2 separate regions of the Homo sapiens genome follow, and region 1 is linked to region 2. Evidence: fine-mapped expression QTL. A gene starts in region 2. The other region holds a variant in brackets. All regions are shown on one strand. Distances are from middle to middle. Region 1 holds the start of LOC105373027 (a long non-coding RNA gene). Region 2 holds the start of C22orf23 (chromosome 22 open reading frame 23).

The links. PIP is the estimated chance that this variant, and not a neighbour inherited with it, causes the effect.
Region 1: its variant is fine-mapped to the expression of C22orf23 in esophagus muscle (GTEx, PIP 0.95).

Annotation. Positions count from the first base shown.
Region 1 is chr22:38,075,231-38,083,720 of GRCh38, forward strand. PICK1 (protein interacting with PRKCA 1) reads left to right here. Exons shown (of 13, transcript NM_012407.4): 13 at 1-471. It overlaps SLC16A8 (solute carrier family 16 member 8), which reads right to left. Exons shown (of 6, transcript NM_013356.3): 2 at 7,812-8,131; 3 at 7,430-7,651; 4 at 6,659-6,802; 5 at 5,610-6,449; 6 at 2,907-3,474. The coding sequence starts at 7,643. The coding sequence ends at 3,158. It overlaps LOC105373027 (a long non-coding RNA gene), which reads left to right and starts at 3,411. Exons shown (of 3, transcript XR_938249.3): 1 at 3,411-3,503; 2 at 3,624-3,717; 3 at 4,383-5,137. RefSeq lists enhancers at 1-231, 5,316-6,097, 8,438-8,490 and a silencer at 7,413-7,462. The variant C/T (reference allele first, on the strand shown) is at 3,715.
Region 2 is chr22:37,949,129-37,957,618 of GRCh38, forward strand. C22orf23 (chromosome 22 open reading frame 23) reads right to left here and starts at 4,473. Exons shown (of 7, transcript NM_032561.5): 1 at 4,320-4,473; 2 at 3,919-4,030; 3 at 2,332-2,394. The coding sequence starts at 4,021. It overlaps POLR2F (RNA polymerase II, I and III subunit F), which reads left to right and starts at 4,571. Exons shown (of 5, transcript NM_021974.5): 1 at 4,571-4,679; 2 at 7,645-7,714. The coding sequence starts at 4,660. RefSeq lists a silencer at 4,737-4,806.

The DNA of each region.
Region 1 (8,490 bases), 130 kb after region 2:
GCTGGCTTGGGGCGCCTGCCTCCCTGCTCCTCTGTCCTCGCACAGCGAACCTGGGCTCCTGCCCAGGACAGGCACCAGGGTCATGGCCTGGGACCTGGACACTGGCCCCTCCACCCTCCCTCCCCTCCCGGCTCCCCGGCCAGAGGGAGAGCTTGGTCTCTGGACCTGCCTTAGGAAGGAGAGGGAGGGCAGGAAGGAAAAGAAAGGACTTGGAGGTGGCAGGAGTCCGAGCCCTGCTCCTTGTGGGCGCTCACACTGCCCCCGGAGCCTGCTGGGAGTGGGGCCAGCCGTGGACAGCTGAGGTTGGGGTCAATGCCTCCTGGGCACCCTTGCCTCGCCCCAGACCGGCCCGTCCAGTCCCCATCACACCTCGGCGGCCTTTATTTATTCTGTTCCCCCAGCTCGGCCACTTCTCTGAAGGAGGGCTGGGTTCTGGGCCTGTATCGAATAAACACAAACCTGGATGGCGCAGTGGTCGCAGTGGCTTCAGACCCTCCTTGTCTGCCCCTCCCCTCCACCGTCTATTGACAGCGCCCTTGCTATGCACCATTTATGCCTCACTGAAGTGTTGCAGGGCTAGCACTGTGGTCCCCTCACAGCTGGTGATTTGAGGCTCAGAGAAAGATCTTGCCCAAGGCCACGCCCTGTGTGGGGACACAGTGGGTTTTAACTCAGATCTGTCCTGAAGGCCTGACTTTGCCACCTGCCTCCAAAGCTTTCTGCTTTGTGGAACCTTTTGTATCTCACCCCCCGCCCCCTTCCCCCGCCCCCAATCTGTGACCTTTCTGTGCTTCCGACAGGAAATAAACCTCTGGGGGAGAGAAGGGCAGACATGGAGCCAGGGCGACTGAGCCCCCAAGTAGGGGAGGGTGGTGAGGGGTAAGTGCTGACTCCAGGCGCGCCTGTGCTGCCCGGGTGGTGGGGAAAGGCGTGTGGGGAGAGGTGCTCGGGGGCTGTGGGAAGAGGGGCGTGGGGAGAGGCCATGGGGAGTGTCTGCAGAGTGGCAGAAACAGGGTGGCCACTTCTCCTGCTTCTCCTGGCCAGCCTCGGCCTGGTGTAATCAGTCATAGTGGCCCTTGTCACTCTAACGTGTTCCTGTTTGGACGATGAATATGGCCATCCTGAGAATGCGAGGGGGCAACAGGGTGTGCGAGGTGGGCTGAGTCCAGGATGGAAAAAGGGTTTCTGCATCAGCTTTGAGCATGCATTGCTGGGCAGAAACCCAAATGGGAGGCTTGGCAGGGGTGGGACATGGAGGAGGGGCTGGCTGTCACCAGGAGCCCACCTGGGTCCCCGCAGAGCCATCAGACAGACCACACTGCCTCCCTGAAGGGGGCAGCCAGAGTGGAGGCCAAGAGCACAGGCTGGAACTGACAGCCTGGGTTCGTTCCTGACCTCCCTGGGCCTCAATTTCCCTATCTGAAGTGTGGCACCTACCTTATTGGCTTGTTAGGAGATTAAATGAACATCTGGAGAGGGCTTAGAACAGGGCTTGGCACAGAGCAAGCACTCTTAAATCTTAAATAAAGTCAGACGGGCCGGGAGCGGTGGCTCACGCCTGTAATCCCAGCACTTTGGGAGGCCAAGGCGGGCGGATCACGAGGTCAGGAGATCGAGACCATCCTGGCTAACACGGTGAAACCTCGTCTCCACTAAAAATACAAAAAATTAGCCAGGCGTGGTGGCGGGGGCCTGTAGTCCCAGCTGCTGGGGAGGCTGAGACAGGAGAATGGTGTGAACCTGGGAGGCAGAGCTTGCAGTGAGCCGAGATTGTGCCACTGCACTCCAGCCTGGGCAACAGAGCGAGACTCCATTTCAAAAAAATAAATAAAAAATAATAATAATAAAGTCAAACGCAGTCACTGCTCTAGTGGTGCAGGGGAAGCCACAGGCCATATAAGTAGAAGCCGGCCAGGCATCTGTGGGGCTCCCCAGACCTTCCTGGGGCCTAGATGGAAAATGAGGGCCAGCAGGGACCAGTGGGGAGGGGTCACTATGGGCCGGGCTGGAAGGTGAGGGGAGTTTGCGGAGGGAAGGCGGCTTCCTCTGCAGGGGCCTGTTCACCACGCTCATGATTCGGAGGGAGGCAAAGAAAGGAGGGGTGTGATGTATGGGAGGAGGATAAATGCATAGAGGGAATACATCGCGTCTTGCCAGATTCGTGCACCTGGATCCAAGTGCAGGAGGTCAGATGTCAAAGTGTGAGGGAGATCGTGGGACGCTCCGTGGGGAGAAGGCAGGTGCTGGGATCAGCAGATGACCTGGCTGCCAGCACAGTGTCCACAGCAAAAGCCCCTGGCCCTGGACACCCAAGTTTATCCTCTAGTGGGAGAGATGCCCTCTGGGAAGGTGAGGGGACATGGCCACCTCGTGGAAGGCAGCAGGGCCCATGGTGTTACTGAGCGCCTGGTCCCACCCTCCCCAGGACCCCAGGGGACGGAGTCGTATGCTCAGCCTCCAGTGAGCAAGGAAGTCAGCGGGGCTGGGATTCAAACCGACCCTGACCCTGGGAACTGTGAGTCTTCTCAGACCGCTCGGGCCCCCCGCCTGCAGGCAGACCCCAACCTTGAACCCTAGTTGCTGCCAACCCCTCGTTCCCTCCACGGGAAAAGGCAGATGCCAGCGAGGGGGCCTTCAGCAGACAGCTCTGAGCAGTGGGGCTGGGCAGGAGCCAGGCACTGTGCCCACCCAGCCCTGTGCCCCTGAGCCCTGTGCCCGCCCAGCCCCTTGTGTCTCTACACCTGGGAACGATGGGTCTCTTCATCCATCTCTGACGCTTCCTCCCAACACTGCCCACCTAGAAGCCTGCTTAGGGGGCCTGGAGAGAGACCTCCCAGACTCCCTCCCACCACCCTGACCCCCAACTCAGGTGGCAGCCGGAGCCTGGGCGGAGGAATAGAACCTTCTGTCGTTCAGCTGAGCTTTATCACCAGTTTCCTGTTGCTCCATAGCAGCTTCACTGGCGATGGGGCAGGGCCTGGCGGAACTTGGGGCACAGATGAGGGAGGCAGTTCCCAGACACCCAGGGGATCAACTGGAGCCCAGACGTGGACCCCGGGAGTGACCACCCCAGACCAGCCTCCCAGCGTACCAGGCTCTCTGAGACAAGAAGCTGTGTTCCCAAGTCACTGGGCCACCCCACCCAGAGCACCCTGAGTTATACAGACTCGGCAGCCAGCCTCGGCCTCGCCTCTATTTCTGGTTCTGTGGGCTCGCCCCGGGCGCTGAGCACCTCCAGGGCCTCCAGGTTGCCGGGTTCCTCTGCAACAACAGGCAGGGGCTCAGAGTCCCCTTCAGCCTCAGCGTCCTCAGTGTCACTGGCTCCGCCCTCAGTGCCTGGGCCTGACGGGGCAGCTTTAGCACAACGCAGGCAGCAGTTGGTGGCGACAGCCATGAAGACCCCAGCCAGGGCCACCTCAGAGCCGGCCAGGTAGAAGATGATCTCATAGTTCTTCAACACATCCACCAGGCGGCCTGGGGAGGAGGAGGAAGAGGAGGGAGAGGTAAGGTCCTGTGGGGTCCTCCCCTCACTCTCCTGCACTCTCAGGTCAAGGGTGGTGCCACTGACTTGGTGAGGCTCCTGGGTGACACACACATGCCCACTCTTTATTCCTGTTTTACAGATGTAAAACCTCATGTGGATTCTGCCATTTGAAACCTTAAAAATGTCACTTGCTGTCCCTGGACCTCAATTGCTTAAGTGATATGTGGCTT[C/T]TGGTGAGGCGTCCCCTCCACCCTCTGATTCAAGCCCCACAAGTGTCCTGTGACTTGCTTGGCAGTGGGGTATCTGGGGTGGGAGCGGGGAGGGGGCCCTGGGCTTAGCTCTGCCCTCCTGGGGGCCTCCACCTCTTGCTGTTGCCATGTAAATGCCCTGGTCCTCAGGGGCTTGGCTTAGTCCTCCCACCCCTCTGTCCCAGGAGGCCCATGAGCATCCCAGACCAAGCCATCATCGGCACAGGTGGGGCTTGTGGGCCAGTAACTCATTTCCTTCTCTATTTCTCAAGGCTTCTATCCCTTGTAGATACTACTTTCAAACTCAGGAAAGTCTCTCTTTTATTATGTTTTTTTTAGGGATGGGGTCTTGCTGTGTTGCCCAGGCTGGTCCTGAACTCCTGAGCTCAAGGGATCCTCCCGACTTGGCCTCTCAAAGTGCTGGGATTACAGGTGTGAACCACTGCACCTGGCTTCAGGAATTTTCTTATTCTTTTGAGACAGGGTCTCACTCCATTGGCCCAGGCTGGAATGTAGTGGTGCCATCTTGGCTCACTGCAACCTCCACCTCCTGGGCTCAAGCCATCCTCCCACTTCAGCCTCCTGAGTAGCTGGAACCAGAGGTGCACGCCACCACACCTAGCTAATTTTGTTTTGTTTTGTTTTGGTAGAGACAGGGTTTTGCCATGTTGCCCCGGCTGGTTTCAGACTTCTGGCCTCAGCCCCCCAAAGCGCTGGGATTACATGCATGAGCCACTACACCCGACCAGGAAAATCTCTTAATTGCAAGTATTTCCCCCTAAAGTGTGGTTTGTCTGTGTGCTCCACCCTCTCTCTAGGTCATTCTCCTCACCCCATGCACCTCCTCTGCCCATCAGATCCATCCAGATTCACACAAGAAATGGAAGACGGTTCCTTGAGGCCTGGGCAGGCTGGTTTTGTGGCCTGCCCACACACTGGCTCAGGGACTTTGCCGTTCTCACTGGGTCAGGTGGGATGACAGAGCTCAGTGAGGGCACTCGATTAGCCCAGCCCTGAAGGAAGGACGAGCAGCTCACCCCATCTCAGTGCAGCCTGCGGCCCCCGCAAGGTGTCCTCCCTGGTTACTGCACCATCTCACAGCCCTCTAGCCTCTGGGACTCAAAGGCAGGCTCCCTTGCTGTTTCAAGATAACTTGACAACCCAGGAAAACCCTCATGTCCCCCACTCCCACCTTTCCAATTTTGGTTCCTGCCTTGCTTGCATAAGGACGCTGTTCCCCCCCAACAAGCCCTGCCCATCCATGCTGTGCCTTCACCTGGGGGATATTCCAGGAAGCCTTCCCTGACCACCCTCATGACGATGACTTCCTAAGGGTGACGGTGACAAGTGCCAGCAGGCCATCTGCACAGTGAAAGACACCAGTGCTTCTCCCCATCTGCCCGCTGAGCACCCCCACTCTGTTTCTGGCCCCAACACCAGTTTCCCAAAGATACTGTCCCCATTCCAGTCACCATTCTAGATGCACCATTCTAAAGGCGTGGGCATTTAGCAGCAGGTACACTGAGGCTCTCATTCTGGGGCTGCAACTTGCGCTAAGGCTTTGTGCCTCAGTTTCCTCATCTGCAAAATGAGAATAAGCACCTGCGCTCCAGATGGCCTTGTGCCAACTGCTTGGGATGGCAGATCTGGCCAGCTACCAGTGTTGCTTTCTTCCCTGCACCTTCCTGGGCTTTTCTGTCCTCACCCAGAGCGGGCGGTCCGGCTTGGAGGAGGGACTAACTGGCCGTGAAGGGGAGTCCACCCACCCGACTGCCCCTTCCCCTCATCCCTGGAAGTTCCATCTGAGACAGGGGGATGGAGCTTCCCTGGGTCTAAGGGGCACTAGGCTCGCCACCCCCTCTTCCTTCGGGGCGCACCGGCAGAGGGCGGTCCGATGAGCACAGCCGCGGCCTCCACGAGCAACACCAGGCCCAGCGCACTGGGGAAGCGGGGCGCGCCCACAGCCGCCATGAGCACCTCGAACTGCAGCGCGCCCACCATGCCGTAGGAGAGGCCGAAGGCGACGCAGAAGGCGACGAGGGCGCCGTAGGAGCGCGCGCGTGCGCTGCTCAGGTCTGTGAGCCCATTGGCCAGCAGGGCCAGGCTGAACAGATACGGGACGTGCGGCCGCAGACGCGCCAGGCCCGCCAGGGCGCCGCACGCCGGGCGCGCCACGATGTCCACGAAGCCCACGATGGACAGCAGGAAGGCGGCGTCGGTGTCGGGCACGCCCGCGTCCTTGGCGTAGTTCACCAGCAGGATGGCGGGGACGAAGAGCCCGAGCGCCATCAGGAACTTGGTGACGGCGTACACGGCGAAGGCGCGGTCGGTGCACACTGCCAAGTCCAGCAGGCGCCGGCGGGGCCGGACCCTGGGGGATGCCTCGCGCAGCTGCAGCCCCGCACCGTCAGCCTCCGCCTCGCCCGGAGCGTCCCCGGCGCGGTCGCCGGCGCTGTCCCTGCGCGGTCGCGGGCCCGGCCCGGGCGGCGGCCTCATGACAGCCCCGCAGGCGCAGCAGTGCAGCAGGAGCCCGCCGAGCAGCAGGAAGCCGCCGCGCCAGCCGAAGCGCTCCAGCAGCTGCTGGCCGAGCGGCGACAGCGCGGACAGGAACACGGGGCTGCCCGCCGCCGCCAGCCCGTTGGCCAGAGGCCGCCGCCGCTCGAAGTACAGCCCCAGCATGATGAGCGACGGCTGGAAGTTGAGGGCCAGGCCCAGGCCTGCGGGCGAGGCGGTGCTGTGCCGGGGTCCCCGGAGAGCCCCTCCCTGGCCCCCACAGGAGGGAGGGGCCAGGCCCGGGAACCCAGCAGATCCGGGAACCCAGCCGAGGGACTTCGAAGACTGTCCCTCATAGGGAAACCGAGGACAGATCTTGCAGCAAGAACCCCCGACCCCCAACCCAGCGGAGAGGAGACCAGGGGGCCCTCACCTGTGAGCACCCCAGCGGTCAGGTAGAGCTCCAGGAGGCGCGTGGCAAAGGAAGCTAGGATCATGCCCGCGGAAGCCAGCAGCCCACCCGCCAGCATCACCGGGCGACAGCCAAAGCGGGTCACGAGGATGCTGGACACGGGGCCTGTGGGCAGGGCAGGGTCACCACCCGGGTCCCGGGATGGCTTGAGTCCTCTAAGGAATAAGGTCACCTCCGGCTCAGGGACACAGAGAGGAGGGCAGTGTCTGGCCAAGGTCACACAGCTTGGAGGGGACAGGCCAAAGAGACAGCATCCTGCGAGGGCAAGGCCCAGAGCACCCCATCCTGCGAACCCAAACCCCAAGCGGAGCGGGGGCTTCCGCACCCCTTTAACCTTCACAGCCTCCAAGTCCCGCCCTGGCACAGACTGGGATTCCTCCGCAGCCCCGCCTCCCAGGATGGGAACTCCAGCAAGCCCCCACCTACAGGTCAGGGCTGCGGGGAGGGGGAGTGCTTCTGTGGCTCTCAGCTTTCCTGCCTCTACAATGGGCGGGTGTGGTCTTAGAAGGGGCCCTCTGAGCTCGCAGGGCAGCCCCCTGGGCCGGCCCCGCCTCTGGCCGCTGTCTCCCTCCCGCCCTCTCTTCCCCTCTTTCTGGTGCCAGGGTTCCCACAGGCAGGAAGGGACTTCGGGGGCCACCCCGAGGGTCAGGGGGATGCTCAGGGGCTCGGGTGTCTCCTGGTTCCGGATCCCAGGGGTCCCGGGGAGGCGGAGGGCCGGGCGGGGACACTGACCCGTGCCGTAGAGCATGGCTAGCATGATGGAGGACACCCAGGCCGTGTCGCTGTAGCCGGCGTCGAAGTCGCGCATGAGCGCGCGGAAGAAGACGCTCACGGCTTTGGGGAAGCCGTAGGCGAAGCCGGTGACCACAAAGCAGGCGCCCAGCACCACCCAGCCCCAGCCGCCGTCTGGGGGGCCCTCGCCCCGCCGGGGGCCGCCAGCGCCCATCGCTGCCTCTGTTGGGAGGGGGCGGGGACAAGAGGGAGGGGCTGGGCCAGCAGCCTAGAGAAGGAGGGGGATGGAGACGAAGCATGGGGAAACTGAGGCACAGGGCTACCCACGTGAGGGTGGCTCAGGTCTGGGAACCAAAAGGGGAAACGGAGGTAGGACTCTCACCCCAAGTCTCCTTCTCCTGCAAAGGGCGCTGAAGGACGAGGGGAGGACGACGGGTCCCACCTGACTCTGCACCTCTGCAGGCTCCCTCTGAAGGACAACTGCTGGCCCCTCAGGGCCTCAGGTGGAAGGCGTCGGGAAGTGGAGCAGGTATGTGCCTGGAGGTGGGCGTCCAGCACCAAAGTCGCCCCGTACGCGTGAGGGTCTCGGGACAACAGAACAAACAGCAGAGGGGCAGATGCCGGCTGCAAAGGGCCGCTGTGCGTGATTTTCCTCTTTAGCCTTCCGCCATGTTCCTAATGTTTCTCAGTGATCACAAATGACTATTGTCATTAGAACATTAAGGGGACAAAAGCCACTTTCAACAGATATCAGCCAGGGGAGCTGAGTTCCCATGCATCTCAGCTCAGCCATGGATTCCCTCCCTGACTTGGGCCGGTCGCCTCCCCTCTCCCAACCTCCCTTTCCTCCGATGTAAGATGGGTGATTGATCACCCCGAGGCCAGCTGGGAATCTTGCGGGAGAGGAGTCAGGTCTCTGGCTTCTGCCAGACAGGTAGGAACCTTAGCAGCACTGAGAGAGTGGCCTTCTGCCCTCCAAACCTCAAACCCTCTATATGAAAAGAATGGCTCCAAAGCCTGTCTCATTCCTGGGGCTCCACCCGGGGCCCTCACAGCAGTTA
Region 2 (8,490 bases):
ATGACAGCAGGTACCTATCCCTCCTGCTGTCCATCCCCCCGCTTGGCCATCCCTGGGGCTTCTCCCCCAGGCGATCCAAGTGTGTCACCTGTCTGGTCAGTTGACCCCACCTCTCAACTGCCATAAAGCCCAGCTTAGAGCAGGTCCCATCCATTGTTTTTTTTTTTTTTTTTGAGACAGAGTCTCCCTCTGTTGCCCAGGCTGGAGTGCAGTGGCATGATCTTGGCTCTCTGCAACCTACACCTCCTGGGTACAAGCGATTCTTGTGCCTCAGTCTCCTGAGTAGCTGGGATTATGGTGTGTGCCACCACGCCTGGCTAATTTTTTTTTTTTTTTTTTTTTTTTTTGAGACAGAGTTTTGTTCTTGTCACCCAGGCTAGAGTGCAATGGTGTGATCTCAGCTCACTGCAACCTCCGCCTCCTGGGTTCAAGCTATTCTCCCGCTTCAGCTTCCCAAGTAGCTGGGACTACAGGCCCGGGTCACCACACCTGGCTAATTTTTGTATTTTTAGTAGGGGTGGAGTTTCACCATGTTGGCCAGGGTGGTCTTGAACTCCTGACTTTGGGTGATCTGCCTGTCTCGGCCTCTGAATGTGCTGGGATTACAGGCGTGAGCCACCGCACCTGGCTCATCCACTGTTTTGATCTGGGTGCCTGTCTACCTTTTCTGCCCATCCAGCCTCTACAAGGTCAATTCCCCAGGAGCGAGCGGTCAGAAGTATTAATTTTTTTGGTCACACACCCAAAAATTTTGCTGTAGAGAGAGGTTTCACTGTGTTGCCCAGGCTGGCCTTGAACTCCTGGGCTCATGTGATTCTCCTGCCTCAGCTTCCTGAGTAGCTGGGACTACAGGTACACCCCAGTATGTATGTGTTTTGCCAGGCTGGTCTTGAACTCTTGGGCTCAAGCAATCCTCCTGCCTTAGCCTCCCAAAGTGATAGGATTATAGGTATAAGCCACCACAGCTGACCTGTTTTTTTTTATTTTTTATTTTTTGTTTTTGAGACGATGTCTTGCTCTGTCACCCACACTGGAGTGCAGTGGTATGGTCTCGGCTCGCTGCACCCTCTGCCTGCTGGGTTCAAGTGATTTTCCTGCCTCAGCCTCCTGAGTAGCTGGTATTACAGGCATCCGCCATCATGCCCAGCTAATTTTTGTATTGGCATAGAGACAGGGTTTTACCATGTTGGCCAGGCTGGTCTTGAACTCTTGACCTCAGGTGATCTGCCCGCCTCAGCCTCCCAAAGTGCTGGGATTACAGGTGTGAGCTCCCACACCCGGCCTGACCTGTTTTTATTTTAATTTAATTTTATTTTATTTTAATTATTTTGAGATTAGGCTCCACTCGGTCGCCCAGGCTGGAGTGCAGTGGTGCAATCACAGCTCATTGCAGCCTTGACCTCCCAGGGTCAAGTGATCCTCCCACCTCAACCTCCTGAGTAGCTGGGACTACAGGTTGGCACCACCACACCTGGCTAATTTTAAAAAATTTTGGGGGCTGGGTGCAGTGGCTCATGCCTGGAATCCCAGCACTTTGGGAGGCCGAGGCGGGCAGATCACGAGGTCAGGAGTTCGAGACCAGCCTGGCCAACATGGTGAAACCCAGTCTCTACTAAAAATACAAAAATTAAGCCGGGCATGGTGGCGCACGCCTGTAATCCTAGCTAGTCAGGATGCTGAGGCAGGAGAATTGCCTGAACCCAGGAGGCGGAGGTTGTAGTGAGCCGAGATCATGCCACTGCACTCCAGCCTGGGCGACAGAGAGAGAGACTCATCTCAAAACAAAACAAAACAAAAAAGTTGGCCAGGCGTGGTGGCTCACTCCTGTAGTCCCAGCACTTTGGGAGGCCGAGGTGGGCGGATCATGAGGTCAGGAGATCGAGACCATCCTGGCTAACACGATGAAACGCCGTCTCTACTAAAAATACAAAAAATTAGCCAGGCGTGGTGGTGGGCACCTATAGTCTCAGCTACTTGGGAGGCTGAGGCAGGAGAATGGCATGAACCCGGGAGGCAGAAGTTGCAGTGAGCCGAGATTGCGCCACTGCACTCCAGCCTGGGCGACAGAGTGAGACTCTGTCTCAAAAAAAAAAAAGGTTTTGTGGAGATGAGGTCTTGTGGCTTGTGGCGTTGCCCGGGCTGGTCTTGAACTCCTGGGCTTAAGCCATCCTCCCACCTCAGCCTCCCAGTGTTGGAATTACAGGCATGAGCCACGTGCCCGGCTGTCTTTGTTTTTTTTATATGAGGTCCTCTCTCCCTTAACATGGAGAAGCATTAAAAGTGTGGCCCCAGATCCCTCTGTCCAGGAAGCCTCTGTGGACTGCCCCTTACTTTTCATGATGTCCATGATGTGGCGCTGCTGGATGTTCGTCAGTTTGGATTCCTTCATCATCACTGCACGACAAAGCATTCTATGAGGCCTCTTGGGCTGCAGGCGGATGCCTTCACCTGACACCCTACTGAAATTTAAAACCCTACATCCTAGCCCCATTCTGCACTGAGCATGCCTTCTCTATCTTTCCTGCTTCGTTTTTTCTATAGCACTTACGACCACCTAAAATTCTATATATTTTATTTTATTGTTATCCTTCTATATTAGCTGTATGATAAGAATTTTTGCTGGTTTAATAAAATTTCTGCCCTCTGTTAAATATTTTTTCCTCTTTCTCTTTTTTTTTTTTTTTTTTTTTTTTTTTTTTTTTTTGAGATGGAGCTTCCATCTTGTTGCCCAGGCTGGAGTGCAGTGGCGCGACCTCAGCTCACTGCAATCTCCACCTCCTGGGTTCAAGGAATTCTCCTGCCTCAGCCTCCCAAGTAGCTGGGATTACAGACATGCGCCACCACGCCCGGCTAATTTTGTACTTTTAGTAGAGACTGGGTTTCTCCATGTTGGTCAGGCTGGTCGTGAACTCCTAACCTCAGGTGATCTGCCCACCTTGGCCTCCCAAAGTGCTGGGATTACCGGTTTGAGCCACCTCATTTTCTTTCACTGCTGTATCCCCAGCACCTAAAACAGAGTCTAAGGCACATGGTAGACTTAAAAATGTTGTTGTTGGAAAAAAACAAAAAAGTTGTTGAGTAAAAGAACACATGAATACTTGTTCATCATGTTTCAGGGGCTGGAGCTACAATTGTGGGCCGAAACAGGCACGGTTCCTGCCTGATGAAATTCATGATCTGGAGGGATAGATGGGACACCAAATAACTGACTACAGCTTGTGCTAAGCCCAGTGAAGGAAAATGTGTGAGGGCACATAACAGTTGATCCTACTGTGGTGGTGAGGAGCAGAAGTCTTCCTCGGGAAAGTTGAAAGTGTGATCTAAAGGATGCATAGGAGTTAACTACTCTAAAAATTTTAGTTCTTTGACTTTTGGCAAGGTGTAGCACCTTGAACCTTCCCCTCCCCCCCGCCCCGCCCCGCCCCCGAATAAGGCATATGCAGTAGAATTTTGAAGCTTTCTGAACCCCAGGCTCCTTATCTGTAAAGGAAAATAGTGCTAAGCCACAGGTCAGGTACGGGGGAACTGAGTTACAGAGGGTAACTACCACCATTCTTCTCTCATCCTTTAACTCAGGGGTCCCCAACCCTCCGTCCGTGGACTGGTACCAGTCCCTGGCCTGTTAGGAACCGGGCCGCACAGCAGGAGGTGAGCGGCAGGCTAGCGAGCCTCACCGCCTCCTTTCAGGTCAGTGACGGCCTTAGATTCTCATAGGAGCGCGAACCCTATTGTGAACTGCGCACGCGAGGGATCTAGGTTGCACGCTCCTTATGAGAATCTAACTAATACCTGATGATCTGAGGTGGAACAGTTTCATCCCGAAACCATTCCCCACACCTCCGTCAGTGGAAAAATTGTCTTCCACGAAACCGGTCCCTGGTGCCAAAAAGGCTGGGATCGCTGCTTTAACGGACTGACCTCTGAGCAGCTCGCAGGTCCCCGGGGTGTAAGTGATGGTCTTGGGGCGGCGCCGGAACCCAGTTCCTTTGGTCACTACCTCCATCTGCTTCTGTGAAGCCATGGGAGGACTCTGAGGAGGGAAAGACGCAATGACACACCCCCTGTCTCCTGTCCCTAATCTCTGTTCCCCGACGCCCAACACCCCCAGAAGTCTGGAAGCGGGGATCGAGCCAGAGAATGATGCCGCCAGTTAATATTGCGACAGTGCCCAAACCTCCCATCCAGACACACAGATACACACACACAGTCCTCATTCTGACCCAGCGCCTGTGGCAGGGAAGTCTCCTCGGGAGGGAGTGTTAACACAGCCATGGTCACAACAGTACCCACTGAGTGATATGCCAAAATTGAAATTTCACCCTAAGACCCTCTCTGGGTGCTCCCCTCTCCACATAGAAGTGGGCTCCCGGAGGCGGTGACCACTGCTTTACAGCCGCATCCGCACCGGTGCCACGCAGAAATACTGCGCGATCTGGGCTGCTGGAGCTGGCAGCTAGCGCCTCTCGCTACTATAGAAACGCGCACACACCAGTCAGCGCATGCGCACTTTCCCCGCTCTGTCCTGCCTCCCGGAAGTGATTTCCTCTGGGTTACGGCGCAGGCGCAAGATAAGCTAGGAGCCGCGCGAGTCGTAGTGTCGCTGTTTGCGGGTCTCCGCGCGGGACCGGGGCGCAGCGGGGTCGCTGAGGCGAGGGTGTCATGTCAGACAACGAGGACAAGTGAGTGCGGGAGCGGAGTGGCCTTTGCGGCAACCTTGGAAGGGGCGGATGAGGCAAGGCTTGGGTCGGCTGAGGAGCCTGGCGTCTAGGGGCAATGTCTGAGGGGACTGGGGTCCTGAGGGGGCCGGCGGAGCCGAGGAAGGGAAGGGCGGGCGACCCAGGAGCACAGCCCCGGCTGGAGGCACAGGAGGGCCCAGGCTCGAGGGTCCAGAGGGGATCCGTAGAAAAGGTGTCCTTCAGCAAATGTTCCAGCGAGCCGGGCTCTGTATCATGCAGTGGGAATATTGAGGTGAATGAACAATCGTCCCTGCCTCTCCACGTGCTCACTTTCTAGAAAAGGGGTCACAGGCCCATAAGTAAGCAAGCAAGCAGGTAACGGTGGTCGCGTGAGCTTCCCCAGTTCTAGACGTATGTAGTATAGGAGTACTCCAGAGGAGGGTCTGGGGCAGCTCCACCGGGTGGCATTAAATAAAAGTCTGGGACGGTCCTTTGCAGTAATTTTTTTTTTTTTTTGAAACAGAGTCTTGCTCTGTCGCCCAGGCTGGAGTGCAGTGGCGCGATCTCGGCTCACTGCAGCCTCCACCTCCGGGGTTCAAGGGATTCTCCTGCCTCAGCCTCCCGACTAGCTGGGATTATGGGCGTGCACCACCACGCCTTGCTAATTGCTTGTAGTTTTAGTAGAGACGGGTTTCACCATGTTGGCCAGACTGGCCTCGAACTCCTGAGCTTGTGATCCACCCGCCTCGGCCTCCCAAAGTGCTGGGATCACAGGCGTGAGCCACCGTGCCCGGCCTGCTTGTAGTAATCTAGATGAGAGAAGTCAGTAGCTTATAGTAGGGTGGTAGGAGTAGAGGTGGTGAGAACTGGTTTTGAATTCTGGATATATTACTATTTTAAAGATAGAGCCCAAAAATTACCTGTGGGATATGTGGGTGCAAAGAGAGCTAGTCTGAAGATAAAAATAAGAAACGTGTGGGATTGCTACCCCATTCCCAGTGAGTGTCAGTAGAGAAGAGGAGATGACCCGTGGCTGAGCATTAGGGCATTTGGACATTGAGTGCTTGGGGGAAAAGAGAAGCCGGGGAGGTGGGGGAACACCAAGAGGGTGAGGTGTCCTTGGAGTCAAGTGAGGAGAGCAAGTGGCCTAATGTGCCAGCTGATAGATCAGGCTAAATGAGAAGGAGAGTTGGCCATTGGATTTAGCAACGTGGAGATCATTAATGAGCTTGGAAAGTGGTTTTGATGGAGCTGTTGGGGTGAAAGGCTTTTTGGAGTGAGATTATGACAAAATGGGAAGAGAGGAAGATAGTGAGGGTGGACAGCTCTTTCACACATTTTTGCTTCAAAGGACACCATGGAATTAGGGCTATAGGGGGAGAGAGAAGAGAAATAAGGGTTTTTTTTTTTTTTTTTTTAGATGAGGAAAAGCACATGTTGAAATGCTGATGGGGCCGGGTGCTGTGGCTTACACCTCTAATCCCAGCACTTTGGGAGGCCGAGGAGGGTGGATCACCTGAGGCCAGGAGTTCGAGACCAGCCTGGTCAACATGGTGAAACCCCATCTTTACTAAAAATACAAAAATTAGCTGGGCATGGTGGCGTGTGCCTATAATCCCAGCTACTCGGGAGGCTGAGACAGGAGAATTGCTTGAACCCAGGAGGCAGAGGTTGCAGTGAGCCAAGATCACGCCATTGCACTCCATCCTGGACAACAGAGCGAGACTTTGTCTCAAAAAAAAAAAAAATGCTGATGGGAATGATCCAGTAGAGAGGGAAACAGTGATGATGAATGAGTACTAGCAATATTTGGGGGCAGATGGGGAAAAATTGAAGGGGTAAAATGGAACAAAAGTCGGATTTACTTCTTCTTCTTATTATTATTTTTTATTTTTTGAGAAGGAGTCTCGCTGTGTCACCCAGGCTGGAGTGCAGTGGGGTGACCGTGGCTCAGTGCACCCTCCGCCTCTCGGGTTCAAGCAATTCTTGTGCCTCAGCCTCCTGAGTAGCTGGGATTACAGGCGCCCACCACCACACCCGGCTAATTTTTTTGTATTTTTAGCAGAGACGAGATTTCTCCATGTTGGCCAGGCTGGTCTTGGACTCCTGACCTCAAGTGATGCACCCACCTCGGCCTCTCAAAGTGCTGGGATTACAGACGTGAGCCACTGCACTCAGCTGATTTACTTATTAAGTAAATATTTATTGAGTGCTTCCTACATACTGGGCGAGACACAGATCTCTGCCCTCTTTGATTTTTTTTTTGTTTGTTTTTTGTTTTGCGGTGGCGGGGGGGGGTTTTGAGACGGAGTTTCACTCTTGTTGCCCAGGCTGGAGTGCAATGGCGTGATCTCAGCTCACCACAACCTCCGCCTCCTGGGTTCAAGTGATTCTCCTGCCTCAGCCTCCCAAGTAGTTGGGATTACAGGCATGTGCCACCACCACTCCCGGCTAATTTTGTATTTTTAGTAGAGACGGGGTTTCATCATGTTGGTCAGGCTGGCCTTGAACTCCACCCGCCTTGGCCTCCCAAAGTGCTGGGATTACAGGCTTAATCCCAGAGCCACAATACAAAGCCACCATGCCCGGCCTCTGAATTTTTTTTTTTTTTAATTTTTCTTATTTATTTTGAGACAGGTTCTTGTTCTGTCACCCATGCTGGAGTACAGTGGTGCAATCTTGGCTCACTGCAACCTCCACCTCCTGGGTTCAAGCAATTCTTGTGACTCAGCCCCCCAAGTAGCTGGTATTACAGACATGTGCCACCATGCCCGGCTAATTTTTGTATTTTTAGTAGAGATGGGGTTTTGCCTTGTTGGCCAGGCTGGTCTTGAATTCCTGGCCTCAAGTGATCCGCCCACTTCAATCTCCGAAAGTACCAGGATTACAAGTGTGATCCACCGTGCCTGGCCCCTCTTTGATTCTTTTAAGTGATGCTCTAAGTAACTGATCTCTTCTTCCTGTACAGTTTTGATGGCGACGACTTTGATGATGTGGAGGAGGATGAAGGGCTAGATGACTTGGAGAATGCCGAAGAGGTCAGTATTCAGCCTCAGGCTCCCACCTCTGCAGCCCAAGCTGCCAAATCGTCTGACAGGTGATGATTAGCTGAATGTGTCTGCCTTCTATTTGTGGTCAAGGCCCCTGCCATAAGCATTCCCAGTTAGAGTGAGCTGTGTTCCAGTCTTGCATAGCAGAACAGCCCTGCAGGGTGGGCCTGAAAGCTTTTGTCCATGTGGTCCACAGCCTGTGGCTTCTGGGGCAGTTAGTTCACTGACAAGTTAAACGGTGCCTTCCTTCATTTGGCAAACATGTGTTGAATGTTTATTATATGCCAGGTGCTTTCTGCTGGGTGGGACTGCTTAAGGAGCAAAGGGAAGAGGTAAGCAGGGCTCAGATGAGGCAGTATTTTGTAGCCTAAAGGCAATGGGAAGCTACTGACAAACTTTGAGCCAGGGCACAGTCCAGGTTACATTTTAGAAAGTACATTCCTGCCTCGAGTAAGGAGTGAACTGGGGAAGGGCAAGAGTGAAAGGTGAGAGGCCTGTGGCTTGGACATAGGTGCTGGTAGTGCAGGTGATGAGAAGGCAGATAAAAGAGTTATTTCGGTGGGTTGGTTATGGGGCTGAGAAAGTGAGTGGTGACGAGGACGACTCTCAGGTTTCTGGCTTGAGCAACTAGGTGGATAGGTTGCCAGCCTCAAGAGGAAAGTAGGGCTTTCTGTCTTGTGTGACTGATGAGGGAAAAAATGCAGTTATGTTCTGGAGAGACATGGAGCCTTCTCTCTCTCTGCATGGCACTTTCAGATACCTTT